Homo sapiens: one gene and its partners. The protein of the gene in region 2 interacts with the protein of the main gene of each other region in a biochemical or structural test. Each region holds a gene or a part of one and is shown on either strand. Other genes may lie near its edges. The genes, in order: MYLK2, MEF2C and IFRD1.

Region 1 (8,002 bases), on a different chromosome or scaffold from region 2:
AGCTACTAAGCCTGGCATTTGAGCCCTTCTACAGATTGACTCCAAATTCCATTGCCCAGGGAGTTTGTGTTGCTCCAATAATCTGCCTGATTTTTCTTTTTTTTAACTTCATTTTAGTCAAAGTAGAAAAAACTCAAAAGTGGGTTCTGGAGTCTGGGTGGCCTGACAGGTTCAAATCCTGTCTTCACTGGATATGTTTGGGCACTTCATTTTCCTTTTTCTGAGCCTTCCTTTCCCCATCTATCAAAAGGGAATACTAAATTTAAAAATAAAAATACATCTTAAAAAATAAGATTGAAGAAAGCCAGGTATGGTTGTACACGCCTGTAGTCCCAGCTACTCGGGAGGCCAAGGTGGGAGGATCACTTGAGGCTGGGAGTTTGAAGCCAGCCTGGGCAACGTAGCAAGACCCTATCTTTTAAAACAAATAAACAAATGAATAAACATACGTTAAAAAAGGAATACTTTCTGGAGTTGTGTGACCCTTAGATGAATGGGCCTGGGTAAGGCTTGGCTCAGGGCAGTTCAGACCTCCGAATAGGTAGACTTGGGACTGACAGCCCCCTTCCCTCCCCCTGGCCCCAGGGCAGCCCCAGCCCCCACCTGCCCCTGGCCTACCCAAAATCTGGAAGCAGTCCTCCTCCCTGGCTGTGAGACAGAGGGCCTGCCCCACCTCGGATTTCTCTGAGGGAACAGCCTGGAACTCAATCCCCCTCGAGGTGTCCCCTTGCATCTTAGCCTGGCCAGCCTGGCCTGGGGTTTTCTCTCCCACTTCCTTCTGGCTCTCTGCCAGGATGTTCTTTCCTTCTTCTGCCTTGGCTGGCCTGGGATCCGTGGGGCTGTGGGTCATGGGCACCCCTTCAAAGGTGAGCTCTGATGCCTCGCTTGGGGGCTTCTTGGCCAGCAGCTTCTCAGAACTAGAAGGTGAGAACACAGAGGTGAAGCCCTCAGCGGCCACAGCCTGTGGCATCAGGCAAGTCTCAATGCAATCTGCAGAGCTAATCCAACCCCACCCCAAATGCATGGTGTAATACAGCCAAATTCACCTGGTACAAAATTAAGGGATGTTCATGGCTGTGGTCATTATCTTGACTACCAACACACTAATACATCATTAATAACTATTAATAGGATTGTTGATATGGTTAATCATCATGTGGATACAACTAGGGAGTTATGTAGCTCTTGATTCATAAAATCTGTTGTGATATAATTGATACATAATTATCAAAGTGATATGGTAAATGTTCTTATTGTGGCTTACAATATATCATTAATGACCTCATTAGCATTCAGGTAAGTATAACTGATGGCATCACACATGTGCTATATTATGGTTATGAAAATATTATCAATGATCCTCCAATCTGGTTATTAGTCATCTTTTCATATCTTACCAATAATTATATTAAGAAGAACAGGAAAATACTGGATGTCCTAGGAAATACACAGCCTTTTGCCTGACACCTTTAGCCTTTCTGCCTGCCATCTCAACCCTGCCCTTGGCTAGACCCAAGCCCATGGAGTAAGGGGAACTTCGGACCCCAGAAGCCTAGAGAAGATATGTTCAACCTAGGCAGTCTTTGAGGGTCTCTCTTACTCCAGTCTTGTATGAATTGTGGCAGGGTTCTGGTTTCTGCAGGGGACAAGGCGGTAGAGGCAATTCACAGGACAGAGGAAACTGAATGTCAGAACTACACTCCCCAGCACTGAATGTGATGATAACCATGCCTAAGACAAGGGAATTAAGCAGGACCCCTAGGGACAGAACCACAGGACCCCTCCCCACTCCCAGGAGGGGATATTCACCTGGAGATGATGGCAGGACAGCTGGGGCTATGCAGAAAGGCAGGTGAGCCCCTCCTGGCTGCTGCTTGGCCCTCTGCTGCCTTCTTGCCCACCCTGGGCTTTCCAGGATCCTGGCTGCCTGAGGCTCCCTGCTCAGCCTTGGGCTTCTTGACGCTGGTCTCAGGTGTCGCAGTCTGCTGGGGCAGGGCTGCCGGGGGCCCAGCACTGCCCTCCGCGGGCCCCCCGCCCCTGTCACCCTCTCCTTTGGGGCCTTGGCTGCTAGTTGAGGGTTGGGCCAGGGTACCATCCCCTTTCTCTGAGGCAGGGGCTTTGGCATCTTTCTTCAGGGTGGGTGGATCCGGAGCTTTCTTTGGGTCTGGGGGGCCAGGGTCTTTCCCTGCAGCCAGGGGTCTTTCACCTGTGGGACCTTTAGGTGCCTTGTCTGCAGAGGAGGTGAGACACCCATCAGGATCCACCCTCCTTTCCTTCCCTCTCACCCAGGCTGGGCAGAGACCAGCTCTGGGCCCAGGTTCCCACCCAGGCAACAACTTGCAAATGCTTGTCCCACTGAGTCTCTGGGGCCACTTGATGGCCCCTAGAGATGAGCTGCCACGACCTTGGAGGGCCTCTGTGGGAGGCTTCCAGCCCTTTGGGTGGGCCTTGGTGGCCCCCATCATCCTTGCCCTGACTGTTTAGGTGCATCCCCAGCAGCCATCCCTGGTGGCTTCACATTTTCCTGGTCTCTCCAGGAAGGGCTTCATACAGGCCCTGGACCCAGCCCAACCCTAGCCAGAGATTCCTCTGATTTCTGGGTCCCCCGTGCACCATGCAAACAAGGCTGGGGCACAGAACTCCCACTGAGGAACCTGCCCAGTCCTGGATTCAAAACCCCCCTTCCCAAGCTCCTCCCTCCATCTCCTGCCCCAGCTTGGCACCTGTTGATGGGTTCTGAATTCCCAGCTCAACTGCTCCATTTTCTGTCGCCATGAGGTAGGGAGGCGTGTGCTGCTGCTTGTCTAACTCAAGTCTTTCTAGCTGCAGAAACAAGAGTGGAGTGTGTCAGGCTGTCCAATTTCCCCTCTCGTCTGGCTGCAGTGAGACAGGAAGCCGAGGCCTGCTAACTGAGGGGAGAGAGGTACCTGGAGCAAAGAGGGGCAACCTGGTTGCCGTCTGTCTCCCAGCGGCTGCTCAGGAGCAGTCCTGGGCAGTTGTAAGGGATTGGGCCGGGTGGGCAGAGGCGGAGGCAGGGGTGTGGGCAGTGGAGGCGGGGACGGAGGAGAGGATCTCTTACACCAGGGGCCATGCAGCTGGGACTGCCGCCACCTGTCACTCTTGGCCCCAGTTCAGAGGACACGGCATTCTTCCCATGGCCCGACTGGGGGGAGAATGATGTTGGAACAAGCGAGAAAAGGGAGGGGTATCTGGGACGCTGGGGGAGCAGCCCTTTCCCCAGGCCTTGCTCAGTATCCCTGACTTGGACAGGATCAGAGGGGGCCTGGAAGAAGGGGAGTACTCAGGCAGGCCTGAAGGGCAAGAGTATGCCCAGGCTGAGCCCTGGTCTGCCCACCTGTGTGCCACATCTCCTGGGGCTCCCCAGAACCTGGCTAGAGCCACAAAGTCCCAGGGATAATCTCCCTGACCCTAGTGCCTAGCTCTGTGCCTCGACATCTGGACCTGCTTGCGTCACCTTTGGGTAAGAAATTGTCTCGGGGGCACTTTCTCAACATGTCCATAGGCCTGGAAGCTTTTTCTTTTGAAACTGTCCTTTTCTTGGGCTCCTGGGGACACGGAGGCTGCCCTGAGTAGCCATGGGAGATGGAGAGTGCTCTGTGCCCCTCCCCCAAGCTCATCCAGTTCTCACCCATGACCCACATGGAAGAAGGGGGCTGGCAGAGAGTCTTTTCAAGGATGCTCCACTACAGGGGTGGCCCGAGGGGCACTCTAGCCTGAGGTGTTCGAGATAGGATGAGGACAGCTATGATCCAAGGAGCCTTCCATCACCCAGAGCCTTTCTCAGAGGGGGCTCTTGAGAACTGGCCAGACCTGGGTGCATTAGAAGTAGCTGTAGAGGCCAGAAGCAGTGGTTCACACCTGTAATCCCAACACTTTGGGAAGCTGAGGCAGGAGGATCACTCGAGGCCAGGAGTTGGAGACTGGCCTGGGCAACATAACAAGACCCCGTCTTTATATTTTAAAAAGTAAGATAAAATGAAGTAGCTGTAGAGTGGTTATCCAGGTTCAGGTCCTGACTGCAGCAAACCAGTCACTTCACTCCATGGCCTCGGCTCCTCTGTCAAATGGGAAGCCATTGGAAAAACGCTTGATGAGAGAAAGGAGGGAGAATGCAGCCCCTCTAAGCAGTGGGGAAATAGGAACCTGTAAAAAAAGATTGAGGAAGCTGTTAATGAACTGACAAAAAGTGACCACCAAAGTGGGGGGAATAAAAAAAGCAAGATGCAAAGTAGCATGTAGAGTGTGCTATCCATTTGTGCAAAAAAAAAAGGGAGAATAATATATGAATAATATATATTTCACTTTATGCACATAAGAATTTATTTGGTAGGATAAGCAAGGAACTGGGCCCCAAGGGTGGGAAGGAGACATCACTGTATATACTTTGACTTTTCTGTTTGAACCATGAACTATGTGAACAGGCTACTATTCAAAATGAGTGGGATGTTTTGTTTTGTGAGCAAATGTCAAGGGTTTTTGGTATAAGCTGGTAAAAACCATAGTTGGAGCTCTTTCCCCAGTCTTGACTACTTTTGCTCTGCCTGGCCCTCCTCTCCAGGCCCGGTCCTCCTCTCCTCCATTTCTCTTCTTTAAGGTCCAGTTAACAGTCTGCCTCTTCCAGGAAGCAAAAGTAACAGCTGATGCCTATACGGTACTGACCACGTGCCTGGCCTCGCTCTGCATGCTCTCATGTTGATCCACCCAAATGGTCTTCAGAAGAACCCAGTGCGGTAGGTACTAGAGAGATGGGGAAACCAAGGCATGGAGAGGTTATGTAATTTACTCAAAGTCACAGCTTGGAAGGGGCTGAACTGAGCTCTGAACCCAGGTCCCCTGCAGAAAGGGAGCTTCCACTTGCTGAGCACCTGTCATTCGTTTTAGCCATCTTGCCTTTAAGCATCATCTTGATGATAACTCTGTGGGGAGCGCTCATCTCATTTTCTGCATGAGGACGAGGAGAGTTAAAGGAATCAGTAGCTTGCCCAAAGTCACTCAGCAAGGAAGGGAGTTGAGCTTGGAATGTCGTTCTTCAAACTCCAAAGCCCTCTTCCCTTCCTAAAATGTCCCAGCCTGTGCCTTGCCCCCTTCTCCCTGCTGAGTAACCCCTTTGTGGATCTTGCAGCATTCAAAAGGTTGAAATGTTTCCTGTCCTAATGCGGATCATTAGGACCTCCTGGCCCTCTATCTGGCCCAGAGCATGTTTTAGTTTAATTTGGAATGTTGGGTCCCCTGCTTCTGGCCTCCCCACAGTGCCCCAGCTGATCCCACCATTGGTTGACACTGTCTGGGAGCCCCCTGAAGGCCAGGGGCTAAACACATCCCCAGCACAGAGTGGACTTGCCCATCAGTGTCTGATGAGTAAATAACTGATTAACCAGAAGGCTCCAGACTGGAGTTTGTTACCTCCCTATGCTGGACCTTGCTGGCATCTCCTTGTTATTATTGTGGTTATCAATACCAGTCATTTATTGAGTGCCCACCAACGGCCAGGCCAGACTATGCCAAAGATCCAGCTCCCTGGATCCTCAGAAGGGACTGTAGGGGCCAATGTTACACCATTTTAAAGGTGTGGAAACTGATGCTCACAGAGGGAAGTGGCTTGTCCCCACAGTCACTCAGCTAGTGAATGGCTTCAAACTACCCACATTCAAATCCAGAGCCACCTCCCAATGAGACCAAAATCCAGCCTGGGACAACTTCAGGGGCATTAGTGCTACTTTTGTTATAATTATTATTCCCAAATAATTACTCTTATTGAACTCTTTCTAAAATGGACCAGGCCCTGGGGTAAGCAGCTTCATGAGTATCCTTCCTTCGAGTCTTACAACTCCCTACCATGCAGTGATTAGGAGATCTGTCAATGAAGCGCTGCGACCAGTAACTGTGAGCTTGGAACAATGTCTTCACCTGTTTCCTCATCCGTAAGGAGAGCATCTGCCTCCCAGGAGGTAGATAAAGCATTACAACAGTGAGTGTGAGCATAGCGAGTGCTGTATAAATGTCAGCTCTTTAATCCCCATTTCACAGATGTGACAGGAAAACTGAGTCACAGGGCAAAGTCATAGAGTTGGGATTGGACCCATCTAACCCAAGGCTCTGCTCATAACTGCTCTGCCCCATTGCCTCCCTCTCACAGCATGGCTGCGAGCATTTAGCCAGCACACATGTAAAGAGTGCCCAATGGCACAGTACCTACAGCACTGTGGGGGCCTGATAATGTCGTGGACACCCCAGGTAGAGGGTTCATCTGTTCCCGCCAGCTCCCCTGCAGTGCCTCCCACTGGGATGAGAGTCTGGCCTGGTTCCGAATCTACGGGACTGCCTGCTCCAGCCAGCTGCTCCCTGGGAGTCCCCAAGCTTCTCAGCACTCCCTTGGAGGCACAGGGGTGGGGCACGGGGAAACTTCCTCCACCCACCTAGGGGCTGCCAGAGCCCCTGCCCACCCTCAAGAAGGGGCTTCCCCGCCCTGCACCAGCTGTGCAGACACCCTCTTTGCCTCTACAGGGGCAGGACAGGAAGTGGGGCAATGCCAAGACCAATTAAACCCGCCAGGGGAATTAAGGTCAGCAGGATGCAATTATGCCTGTTGGATTTAACAAGGCCAGAGGGAAGGTTTCTCCAGCCAGAGTTCACGGCTCCTTAGGCCTCTTGCCCTGTGTAGCTCTGCCTTCCAGGAGCCTAGGCTTCCAGGCTCACCTAGCTCTGGAAGAATGTGTTGGGGGTGAAGGGGTTAACTTCACCCAGGCACTGCTTCCTTGGCTCTGGAGAGGAAATCAGTTCAGCCAAGAGGCTTTAAAAGGACCTGTTCGGAGAAGTCATGCCCAGTCTGACCCTCTCCCTGCCCAGCTGTGATGGAAAATCCAAAGAGTTGAGCAACAACCTTTCTGACTCCAAAGAGAGCAGCCAACTCCCCTCACAGCCTTCCCTCTGCTCCTGTTTGAGAGCCACTCAAGGCTGCATTAGCACGTTGTTTTCTCTCGCCCTCTCCCACCTTGGACCCCTGAGCCCAGGGCCTTGGCAGGACCTCTCAGGCCTCTGGAAAAGCCCTAGGTAAGGTTGCTGTCCTTACAGCAGACCCTGTCCTTCCAGCCAAGCTAGTAAGCAGAGGTCTGTGGGCGTTCTGTGTGCAAATTGGACATAGGTTTCTCCGAAAACGCAATTGACACACTGTTCCATCCCACAGTTATAGAATTTTATTGCTAAGATTAATTACTGGGGGCTCTACTGTGACAAGGACTAAACTGGTCACTTTCAGGACACAGAGATGAAATTGGGGGAGAGCTATAGAATCACTGCATATTACATTTTAGGTGAAAAAAGACTATAAAAATCAACCATGCCTGTAATCCTAGCATGTTAAGAGGCCGAGGCTGGAGGATCACTTGAGCCCAGGAGTTCACGACCAGCCTGCGCAACATGGTGAGACCCCATCTCTGCAAAAAAATTTAAAAATTCGCCAGGCGTGGCAGTGCACACCTGTGGTCCCAAGCTACTCAGGAGGCTGAGGTAGAAGGATTGCTTGACACCAGGAGGTTGAGGCTGCAGTGAGCCATGATTGTGTCACTGCACTATGGCCTGGGTGACAGGGTGGGCCCCTGTCTCAATAAATAAATTAAATAAAAATCAGCCATAGAGCGGGATCCTTTTTGTTCAAAATATTTACAAAGAAGATGGCTGGAGGGATATAAATGGACATATTTACAGGCGTAGAAATAGAGATTATTTTTATTCTTTATTCATCTAGATTTTCCAACTTTTTTGGAAATGACTTGTAACTCTTAATCAGATCAATAAGTAATTCCAAATATATCAACGTGGACACAGATTTCTTCAGAGAGAAAATGGTAAGAGCTATAAAACACCATGAAAGGACTTCTTGGCTCAGGGCCTCAGAGAACTCGCAATTCAGCTACTGCAAGGCTTTCTCAGTAACTAAGCCCCAGAGTTGGTTTAAAATGAAGCCTCCTGGCTGGGCGAAGTG
Region 2 (7,123 bases):
TTCTTTTAAAAAGTGTCTTGGAATTTTGTTTTTTCATTCTCACTTTAGTTAACTTTTAAATGATCTGGGGATGACAGGTATTTTTATATTCATCATTACAAAATGCTAAATTCCACCTTTGGGAAAAAATAAGCCATTTTACTAAAAAACACAATTTTTAAAAAGGTTGAAATAAACAGCCTCCACGCAGCAATGCATACAATATACAGGTTGTGCAGCTTGCGTATATTGCATCACTGTTACCAGTATTCAAGCTTCATATTACCAAAAATCTTTTAAAATAGGATTAGATATAACAATACTCGCAGCCGTGTAAAATGCCACTTATGGATCTTTTACTTGCAATGAAGAATGTTGCCTAAAATGTTACTCTAGGACGGGTTATGTAAAATAATACTCCCTCAGGGCTCTGCCCTAAAGTCTGGAATACAAAGGATTTACTGTGATTAAAAACCATACTAGCTTTGCAAATACAATAAATGGTAAATTACAGATAAGGTATAAGGGTAAAGATAGACCAAGATTGTTTACAGAAAGTGACTCATCAAAATCAAAATTGTGCTTCTTCTCATTAAATCATCTTTTAAAAATTCTCAGATTATCCCTTCCCTATCTTGCCACCACTTTATAAGAATTCAGTAGTGGGAACAAGAGATGACTGGCATCCATTTTCAAGTGATTCTGTTCTCTTCATGTTCTTATAAAACTATTGTCAGAACTGCTATAAATAGCCAAGGCTTCTGCTGGTACTTTAGCTTACTTTATCTTCAGCATTAAAAATTCACTTTTTCTTTGTTGCTGAGGCAAATTGCAGGTTAAAAAACTAATATGGCTATTTCTTCATATTTTCATGTAATGACCCTTTCCCACCCACTGGTATCTACTGATATTGATATACTAAAGTATTTTGAAATGACAAAGAACATTTGTGAAATGTTTGCATATTTTATACACATCAAGTTAGAAGGATGGGTTGTAAGGATGGGATCAAGTCTATGGTGAGGAAAATGATTTTCTTATTTTATTCCCCTGTGCGTGTGTGTGTATGAGTGTGTATATTTTCAGGGATGTTTTTGTTTTTCCTCTGCATAAATGTTATTCTTTCATGTTCCATGGATACCTTGAGTAGTGGGATATATATGAAATGGTTGATAGATTTTTTTTTTTTAATATATAAAACATTAGTACAAGGCAGGCTAGCATCCTTTATGGATACAACCAAAGGTGCATTGTGGTCTAATTGTGGATTTCAGATCAAGTTAAGAAAAATATAGCCTAGTTAATAAGGTCTCTTGGCTTCTGCCACCCAGCGGCAGCCTTTTACAATGAGAAACACATAGCAACTATGCAAGTAAAAGAGAAAAAATGGATAAGAAATGTCCTACACATGATATAGCAGTGTTGATATTACTGCCTATATCTTCTTTGCTGTGTATGTCAATGCATATGATTGGAGATGAATCGACAGATCTTCACATTCCAAGAGAAGGAAAATCTTTCCTAGACTGAAATATCTTTTAAACAATATATATTGACTTTCTTATGGCACTCACTTATTAAAGGGTCTGAAAATTAATCCCTTATAGACGAATATTAGACAAGAGTCATTTTTTTTAAATTAAAAAAAGGGACATAGAGAGGTTCTTTATGGGATTTCTTGAAATGGCTATTAAATCTCTTTATTGAAGAAAAAATAGATGACATACATGCTTTATGCAGAAGTGACATTTGGGGGTCCTGACACACCGGGATTGTTCAACAGTCCTATATTGCTGACAAGATTGTCAAGGGTCAGTTAAAATAATTAAAAACGGATGACAAAGCAACTATCCCTTTACCTGCTTCCTTCTTGTCTAGCACCCAGTCTTTCACATTTTTCTTCTGTGGGAATTTATAACTTATTCACCAAGTAAATTCCATATCACTTGTTTCTAGGGCCATATTTGCAGGACATGTGCCCCAACATAGCTTTTCTATTCTGGGCATATTTCTAAAAAGCGTATCAAATTCTAGGCTGAAAACCAACCAGATGATTTAGAATATGGGCAAGTTAGGATATGCACTTACTGAATTCCAAGATGCATGGTGAAATGGTGAGATCAGAAAGGGGCCCTGCATTTGATAAAAATGCAAAAAACAAAATAAAAATAGCATGAAAGAAACTAGTATATACAATGGATGTCAGTTGACCCAATAGATTGCTAATGTATTAAAAACAATTTAGGGTGTTGCAATGTGATATGTTCTAACCCCACAGGTTATCCTTTTGACAGCTGACCTTAAACTTATAAAATGTAAGCAGAGTAAAAGAAAACAGAAAGAAAATAGTTACTCAAATGTGCAACTGCACAAATATACCCCCCTCCCGCTATTAAGATAACAAAACTTCTGCTATTACCATAATATTATATATATTAGAAAGCTATACACAAGCATGTTAATTTCACAGATTTTTTTAAAAGATTCTTAATATTTTATATAATTAGAAATACACATTTCAAAAACAAAACTTCTACAAAGAGAAAACAGTTATCTTGGTTAGCAAAGCATGGAGTTCTTCATGGCTTAGGGTAGTGCTTTCTATACAAAAAGTCCTTTTTGGTTTTTTACAGGACTGTTTAAAATATTAGCGAAGCTATCAAGGGGAAAAAAACACATTTTGGCTTAAGTAAACTACAAAAAGCCACAAATGCTTTGCAAACTCTGTCTTACCTTTTATATGAAAATAAGCAAAATGTAATGTACATATTTTTATATTTTTATTTAATAAGAGATGCAGACCCAGATTTATTTATTTATTTAATTAAATATGTTAGCCCTCCAACTCCACATTTTTTTTTAATAGGTATGGTCCTCTTTTAATGGTCTCTGATCCTTTTTAATGAGTGCCATACGCCAATGATATGCCTGCAGGTTTGTGAGCATTCTTGGGATGTCAGGTGACCTGGTGTGTTCCTAACATTTACCAATGGCCACCCATTACCGGGTCTGTCCAAGCATCTATACATTTTTCTATATGTTGCATAACAGCTGCTCTCTCTTTCAGTAAAGATCTGCCGCTTTTGGCAAATGTTTCCTTTTGTCTATTTACATGTAAATAACGTTGAACCTGCAACATGACACTATCTATTGTAACATACATTTTGCAAAGGAGCACAACAGTGAAAAGAAGTTAGCCTTAAAATCTATTTTGTACAAGTGTTCTGTTGTACAACTCAAGTGCTAAGCTTATCTCAGCATTTCTGTTTATCTTTATACTGTATCACTGAGGCAATTTAAAAGTACTTTTACAAAACAGAGTACCTGACTTTTTTTTTTTCCACACACGGCACATATAATGCATATCGACCCCCCTTCCCCATTAAGGTATAGCACACACACACACTGCAAGAAAAAAAAAAAAACTAGTAAGTAATAATCTGATCATGTTGCCCATCCTTCAGAAAGTCGCATGCGCTTGACTGAGGGACTTTCCCTTTCGTCCGGCGAAGGTCTGGTGAGTCCAATGGGGGAGTGGAATTCGTTCCGGTGATCCTCTCGGTCGCTCCCGTCGTACGAACTGCTACAGCTGCTCAAGCTGTCAACAGGAGATCTCCCCGCCTCGTGGCGCGTGTGTTGTGGGTATCTCGAAGGGGTGGTGGTACGGTCTCTAGGAGGAGAAACAGGTTCTGACTTGATGTTGAGGCTTTGAGTAGAAGGCAGGGAGAGATTTGAACTCTGAGATAAATGAGTGCTAGTGCAAGCTCTGTAGGAGGAAAGGAAACCCAGTTACAGATGAAGGAGGCCTGGAGGCCCCAGGAACTCACAATTAAATCAAACATCAGCTTAAAGACTCGCATAGACACCAGAGCATGCCCAGAGTGAAGAAAACGTGCTTGGAAGCACATAAGGGCATCGCCTTCTCAGGGCGATTTAGGATGCCTTTGTTGATTTGCCCGGTAGTAATTACAGCATTTAACTGGTCCAGGCCTCATGAATTATATCTCTAGTCTCCGAGAGGCTCCCTAAACATATAGGTTACCATTTCAGAAAGGTTTAAGACACAATGGAAAAAGCATTTTCTGTGTTCATGGACTCTATCCCTAGACTAGTTCTAAAAATTAAATTTCTAAGCATTTAGATACAGTGTTTAGCTCTGGAATTAGACTTCCTTGATTTACTAATGCTTGTGTTTGAATATTATTTTTAAAAGCTTATTATCAATATAAATATTTGCCTCCAATTAATAAGCACATACAGATGGAATCACATAGTCTTCAGAGAAAGTGAAGGGAGTTAAATTTTAAATGACTAGAACTCAAATGCTGCACAATAACTGTATCTGGTAAAAAGCTTTGGAGGTGGAAAAAATGGAAAGGGGGAGGGAAATTGAAAATTATCTGCAGAAAGTTTAAACGTTGGTTTTCAAACACTTAAGACTTTCTACTCCATTAAAACTGATAATTTGACTTTCTTCATCCTTTTGCAGTTACATGAGATGAAAATACTTTGTGTTCCACAATGACCTCAATTTTATTAATGTTAGTCACTCCCTGATGCGTGCGGTTCTTAGGCTACCACTCCTCTTATTTATCATTGGCATTAGTTGATGAATCTGGTGTTGCCTAAGGAAAGCTTGTTGCCAAGAAGGATGTAGTGTGATTTTACTGTGTTTATAATCCTTAATCCTCATATATTCCCAGAGAGAATAATTTTTCCTTTTTCCAAAATCTGGGAAAATTTAGAAACTTGGAATTCTAGAGGAAAAAAGTATTAAGCCCTTAAGTGTAGATTAGCAATCACAATGACTTTGATCAGGATAAACCATAGTGGCATTGCTCGCATCAATTTTAAGATGCTTTTACTCTTCTTACACTAATTACACTGACTTCCAGAGCTAGAGTCAGGATTACTTGACTATATTGTCAAAAGAGCATGGTACTCTCTTTTACTGAGGAAGAATCCAAGTGAAGAATTATCCATACAGACACACCCATTTTAAACAAAGGAAAGCAAGCCTACTTACTAATGTATGTAATTATGCTGCTTTCCAGTGGAGAGAATTAGTTGGCACTAACAATGTCATTATGACCACTGAGAGAAAAAGTATATATTTCAGAAAAAAAGTGAAGTAACTTGGGGCTGGCTTTTTGGGAGATGCAATACAAACTCAAGATGTATAGTGATATAAAATTAGTCAGAAACGAGTTTATCTTTGAGTGATGTTTTGTACAAAAGCACCACCTACTGGCAAAGAATTACTTTCCTTCTCCTATTAATAAATAGATGAGCTAATGTAGAGAATAATATAAAGGAGAATTATTTGTTTCCTTAATAAGCGTCTCTTTCTCTAGCTTTTATGATCTTATATAATCAAAGCAGTGTTAGCATTTATATCAAGAAACTACACTGACTGTATATAATTTTCAAACACCTGTTTATATTTGGAGCTATTTATTTGTAGCTTATTAATTTATAGTCTATCAGTTTACTAATTTTCCAAAAGTTTTAATTAAATAAGCCTTGTTAAAATGGGGAGAGGGAACACCTGTATTTCAAAAGGATTCATAATGGTAGACTATTTTATCTTGGTTCAAAGTTACTTAGTGATTCATTCTGATGTTTGAGGAAATCGTCTTTTGATTTCTGGAATAAAGAATTTTCCTGGCTCTAAGAAAGACCATTTCACTAAAATTTAATTAAATGCTTCTGCTATGAATCACACAACTATTTAATAATGAATATGAATTAGGAGTCTGAAAATAAAAAGTGATATGTCAATAAATACTTTTGCTTGCTCTTTGACATACAGATTATGTCTTCACAGGGAGGGTGACATAGAAAATTAGAAGAAAAAATTGGTGAGTTGGACAGTCTAAGCAGTTAATCTAGACAAGGTAAGGGAAAAATAATATAACCAAAATTCTGTTTCTTTAATACAGTTTTTGGAAGCTGCATTATTCACCTCTTTGCATCATCTTCCTATGTTAACTGGCCTGTATAGGTTTAGCTGTGTATCTTCCCCATGAAAGATGTAACAATTATTGGTTATCCCTTCCTACAAACAGACTAGCTTAAATTTATCTTTTGGTGGAATTTCATTTGACACTGAAAACATACATGAAGCATTTTGAGTAGTTCTGGGGACTAAATCCACAGTAGTAAAATGCAAGTGATATCTTAGATTCAGCTTCATTATACTGTGACATAGGATATAAAATAGAATGGCTAGTCTCTGTTAACAAAGAAGTATTTTCTTGAAAAGAAAAAAGTAGCATTAAAATAACTTAACTGCATATATGCTAGGTTCAGATATAAGCATGTTGGTCTACTTGAGAACAAAATATAGACACGAATAATTATAGACCCTGATAATTGTGAAATACTGCATATGTGTGGGTGGGTGATAAAGAGGTGGGTGGGGAGATAGAAGCCAGATATGCAAGTTACCCATATCAAGTCCTCTATGCAAATTTTCATCTATTACAGATGCTTTTGAATTGGGAAAACTCCTACCCTTTCCCATAATTGTTCAGAAATCAAACATGACTGGATAGTTTTATTCAAAATTTTTACTGCCTCCGCCTGGAAATTAGACTATCAAACTATATTTAACCTAACCTTTTATAAGTCATCTCTACTCAGAGTTATCTCTCTCAGTATGTACTGAACACCCACATCAACAAAGTTGACGTATGGAAATGCTTCCAGAAAACAGGCTGCCCTTTTTATAGGTGGTGGTTTAGAAAAACACTAAAACTTAGTGTTACACTAAATCAAATATTAGTATTCAAAGGACTTTCATTAACTCTTGATGGCAAGTTCCTCTGTCAGCCATCTCTCTCCCTATAGCAAATAAATTTGTGTTGCTTACTTAGCTTGGTTAGATAAAATCAGATACTAGGTTTTAAAAGTATAGCTTTGAAGACTTAAAGCTCCAAAGGACAAAATGAACTTTTTTTCCATGGACAAAATATGAAGAACTCTGTTTATGGTTTTGCAATTTTGAGAAAGAATTGTGGTAACCATCTTGGGCTGCTGGGAATATCTACTTTGGTGGAGCTGAAATATATTCCACTCTGCTATGAACATTGTCTCTAGCCAAAAGAATGTGAGCCCGCAACACAAATCTCTGCGACAACTT
Region 3 (3,367 bases), on a different chromosome or scaffold from region 2:
TAAATTAATTCACGAGTGAACATACAAGTATGATCACAGCTATGCAAACAGGTACATGATCTAACCAAAATAATATTAGAAGGATGTGAAACAATAAAAGAAATTTTCACCTGTCTTAATAGTAAGTTGACAAACACCTAAAAAATAAATGGCTGTATAATCATATTATTTAGAAACCTAAAACCAAAAACTGAAGGCTGAAAGAACCGAGCTAGAAAAAACTGAAGGCTGAATGTCTCTTGGGATGGGACTGAGGAATAGGAAAGGATGGAGCAAGGGGCTTTCCTTATTAGCCTTGAAGTACCATTAAACTATGTTCAGGCTGGGCACGGTGGCTCATGCCTGTAATCCCAACACTTTGGGAGACCAAGGCGGGCAGATCACTTGAGGTCAGGAGTTCAAGACCAGCCTGGCCAACATGGTGAAACCCCATCACAACTAAAAATATAAATTAGCCAGGTGTGGTGGAACACACCTGTAATCCCAGCAACTCAGGAGGCTGAGGCAGGAGAATCGTTTGGACCCTGAAGGCAGAGGTTACAGTGAGCCAAGATTGCGCTACTGCACCCCAGCCTGCGCAACAGAGGGAGACTGTCTCAAAAACAAACAAAAACCTATGTTCATACAACACTTTAATAAAAATTCATTATTTATTTATAATTACATGTACATACATATATGCATTTGAATATCTAGAAGAAACTACCATTTGCAATCTCTTTTCCATGGTTCTAACCTACTTGGAACATAACCAAGTGACAACATACAAACAAGTTCTAGATTCTAAACCTGTTTTCCACTGCACTGTAACTGGGGGATGGGACTCAGCAACAGTGACTCCATAAGCCAGCAAATGATTTTCACCTAGAGGGAGCACCAGACTTCCAAGAGTTGTTGGGATGTGGGAGGGGAACACTAGTTTGGAAAAAAGACCTTAAATGATTTTGATACTTCTCCCTACAGTATATATGCTTCCCTACCCCTCACGGCGACCTACAGCAAGAGTATCAAAGAAACAAGTCTACGGATTTGAAATGGCATGTTGCTTGCACTATATATTTTAATCTAAAGTTTATTAAATGTTAACGTGTTGTCAAAATGCTTTTCATAAAATGAAAGAAATATACCTCATGGGCAAACAAGCAGCAATATTCTTTTTTGTTTTGCTTTTGAGACAAGGTCTCACTCGTCACCCAGGCTGGAGTGGCACAATCACGGCTCACTGCAGCTTTGACCTCCTGGGCTCAAGTTACCCTCTTGCCTCAGCACCCAAGTAGATAAAGAGTAGAAGCACACACCACCACACTCATTTTTTAAATTTCTGGTAGAGACAGGGTCTCGCTATGTTGCCCAGGCTGGTCTCAAACTGGGCTCATGCCATCCTCCCGCCTCAGCCTCCCCAGAGTGCTGATTATAGGCATGAGCCACACTGCATGTTGCCAAGCAGAAATATTCTTGAAAGTCAGAAACCTTAATCCCAATTATGTATTGCTACATTCTTTTCATCTACTTTAATGTTTGTAAATATACACATAAAGCTTTGTCTCCCTGCCCACCTGGCCTAGTCATTTTGGACTCTGTACCTCAAAGCCATAAATAATATTTCTTCTATTAGAAGAGAAGCACTTTCAGTGTGGAAAAAAATCTTTATTTCAAAGTAAAATGCACAAAGTCTCATACAGCAGATAAAATCAGTGTTACTGCTCTCAGATGTTAAGGTTAGCAACCTTTCTGGCATATGCTAATTCATCATGAACTCCCAATAGCTGAACTGAATGGCTTTTAAGTACAGCTATAAGGTCTCATGGTATAATTCCTTTTGTTGATGCCAGTGACAGGATTTTAAAAGCTACATTCCATTAAAAATTAAAAATACAGCAGCTTTTCCAGGGGAACTAGATCCCAAAATTGTACCCAGAACTCTTGTCTAAGATATTAAGTTAAATATCTTGCATGTATATATCATTATAGTAAATCAGTATTCTTGACAACCACAGTGTAAGAAATTAAACTTTGGCTAATTGTTTTCCCCATCATGAAATCAGTCTTTTGCTGTCTTCATAAATAAATTATGACCAAACATTACAAATACTTTATACATGTTTACTGATTTACAGAGAATATTTAATAATCAGAACTCACCAGTTTCAATAGTATTGTACATTAAATTATAAGCAATATAACCACTGCTACAAAAGTTATCTAAGTTAATCCAGGATAAAAACTGTGTCTAGAGTTTAAATACATTGAAATAGAAAAAAAAATAGAAATTAGAAAATAGTCTTCAAGTTCTGAAAATCTAGAAGAATTCTCCAACATCTGCTCTCTTATCTCGACATTTGCTTCTAGCTTTGGTTCGAGCTTTGAAGGCTGCAGAGTTATATAAATGCTAAAATGAAAAAAAGGAAAAACGTGCATCAGTAAGACTTAAGATATTCTTACAAAACAGAAAAAGGGTAAAAGTCACAAAGAAAAGAAATGAACTAATTTGACCCTATAAACATTTAAATGTTTATAAAACACACACAAAGAATGAAGGAGAAAAACAAAGAGTTAACAGGGGCCATGCAAGGTGGCTCACACCTGTAATCCCAGCACTCTGGGAGGCCGAGGTGGGCGAATCACGAGGTCAGGAGATTGAGACCATCCTGGCTAACACGGTGAAATCCCGTCTCTACTAAAAATACAAAAAATTAGCCAGGCATGGTGGCACATGCCTGTAGTCCCAGCTACTCGGGAGGCTGAGGCAGGAGAATCGTTTGAACCCGAGAGGCAGAGGTTGCAGTGAGCCGAGATCACGCCACTGCACTCCAGCCTGGGCAACAGAACGAGACTCCGTCTCAAAAAAAATAAATAAATAAAGAGTTAATGGCTATTCCATATTAAGAAAAGTACTAATCAAATTGTAAAACGCCAAGAAAGTTAGACGATTTCAAAAACCAACAGTGAAAAATGGACATCAACATTGTTTCATCCAAGAAAAGACAAATCATGACTAATGCAGAAAATAGTCCTACTTGGCTGTCAATTAGAACAAGGAAAAAAGTGATGAAGTGCCATTTTAATATCAATTAAATAAACACATTTTTTAAATTATAAAACTCAATGGTGTCAAATCTTTGTGTAACAGCTACATGCCTTCATTCATTGCTGGAGACAATTTAAATATCGTCTCCAATATAAGAGTAACTTTGGAAAGTAATTTGGCAATACATTATGCAGGGGATTTCTTCAAAAAAATTATTCAAAAGAGAGAAGTATGTAAAAATATTAATGTTTCTTAAAAAAAACTTAAAATGCCGTACAAGAAACAATTATGTGGATATAAAACTGATAAAATATCCAGGTTCTATAAAATGTAATTAAA

What was found.
Region 1: of the proteins of MEF2C (region 2) and MYLK2, one has a biochemical effect on the other in vitro, tested with the Homo sapiens proteins (one study listed by IntAct).
Region 3: the proteins of MEF2C (region 2) and IFRD1 form a complex in vitro, tested with the Homo sapiens proteins (one study listed by BioGRID).

Annotation. Positions count from the first base shown.
Region 1 is NC_000020.11:31,814,354-31,822,355, reverse strand, and holds the start of MYLK2 (myosin light chain kinase 2, skeletal/cardiac muscle), read right to left. Parts: upstream 3,001-8,002; 5' UTR 2,928-3,000; intron 2,824-2,927; 5' UTR 2,776-2,823; coding exon 2,724-2,775; intron 2,231-2,723; coding exon 1,810-2,230; intron 918-1,809; coding exon 619-917; intron 1-618. UniProt on the Homo sapiens protein: Implicated in the level of global muscle contraction and cardiac function. Phosphorylates a specific serine in the N-terminus of a myosin light chain.
Region 2 is NC_000005.10:88,719,181-88,726,303, forward strand, and holds part of MEF2C (myocyte-specific enhancer factor 2C), read right to left. Parts: intron 3,746-7,123; coding exon 3,424-3,745; 3' UTR 1-3,423. UniProt on the Homo sapiens protein: Transcription activator which binds specifically to the MEF2 element present in the regulatory regions of many muscle-specific genes. Controls cardiac morphogenesis and myogenesis, and is also involved in vascular development.
Region 3 is NC_000007.14:112,474,452-112,477,818, reverse strand, and holds the end of IFRD1 (interferon-related developmental regulator 1), read right to left. Parts: intron 2,678-3,367; exon of another isoform or gene 2,584-2,677; intron 2,390-2,583; coding exon 2,300-2,389; 3' UTR 616-2,299; downstream 1-615. UniProt on the Homo sapiens protein: Could play a role in regulating gene activity in the proliferative and/or differentiative pathways induced by NGF. May be an autocrine factor that attenuates or amplifies the initial ligand-induced signal.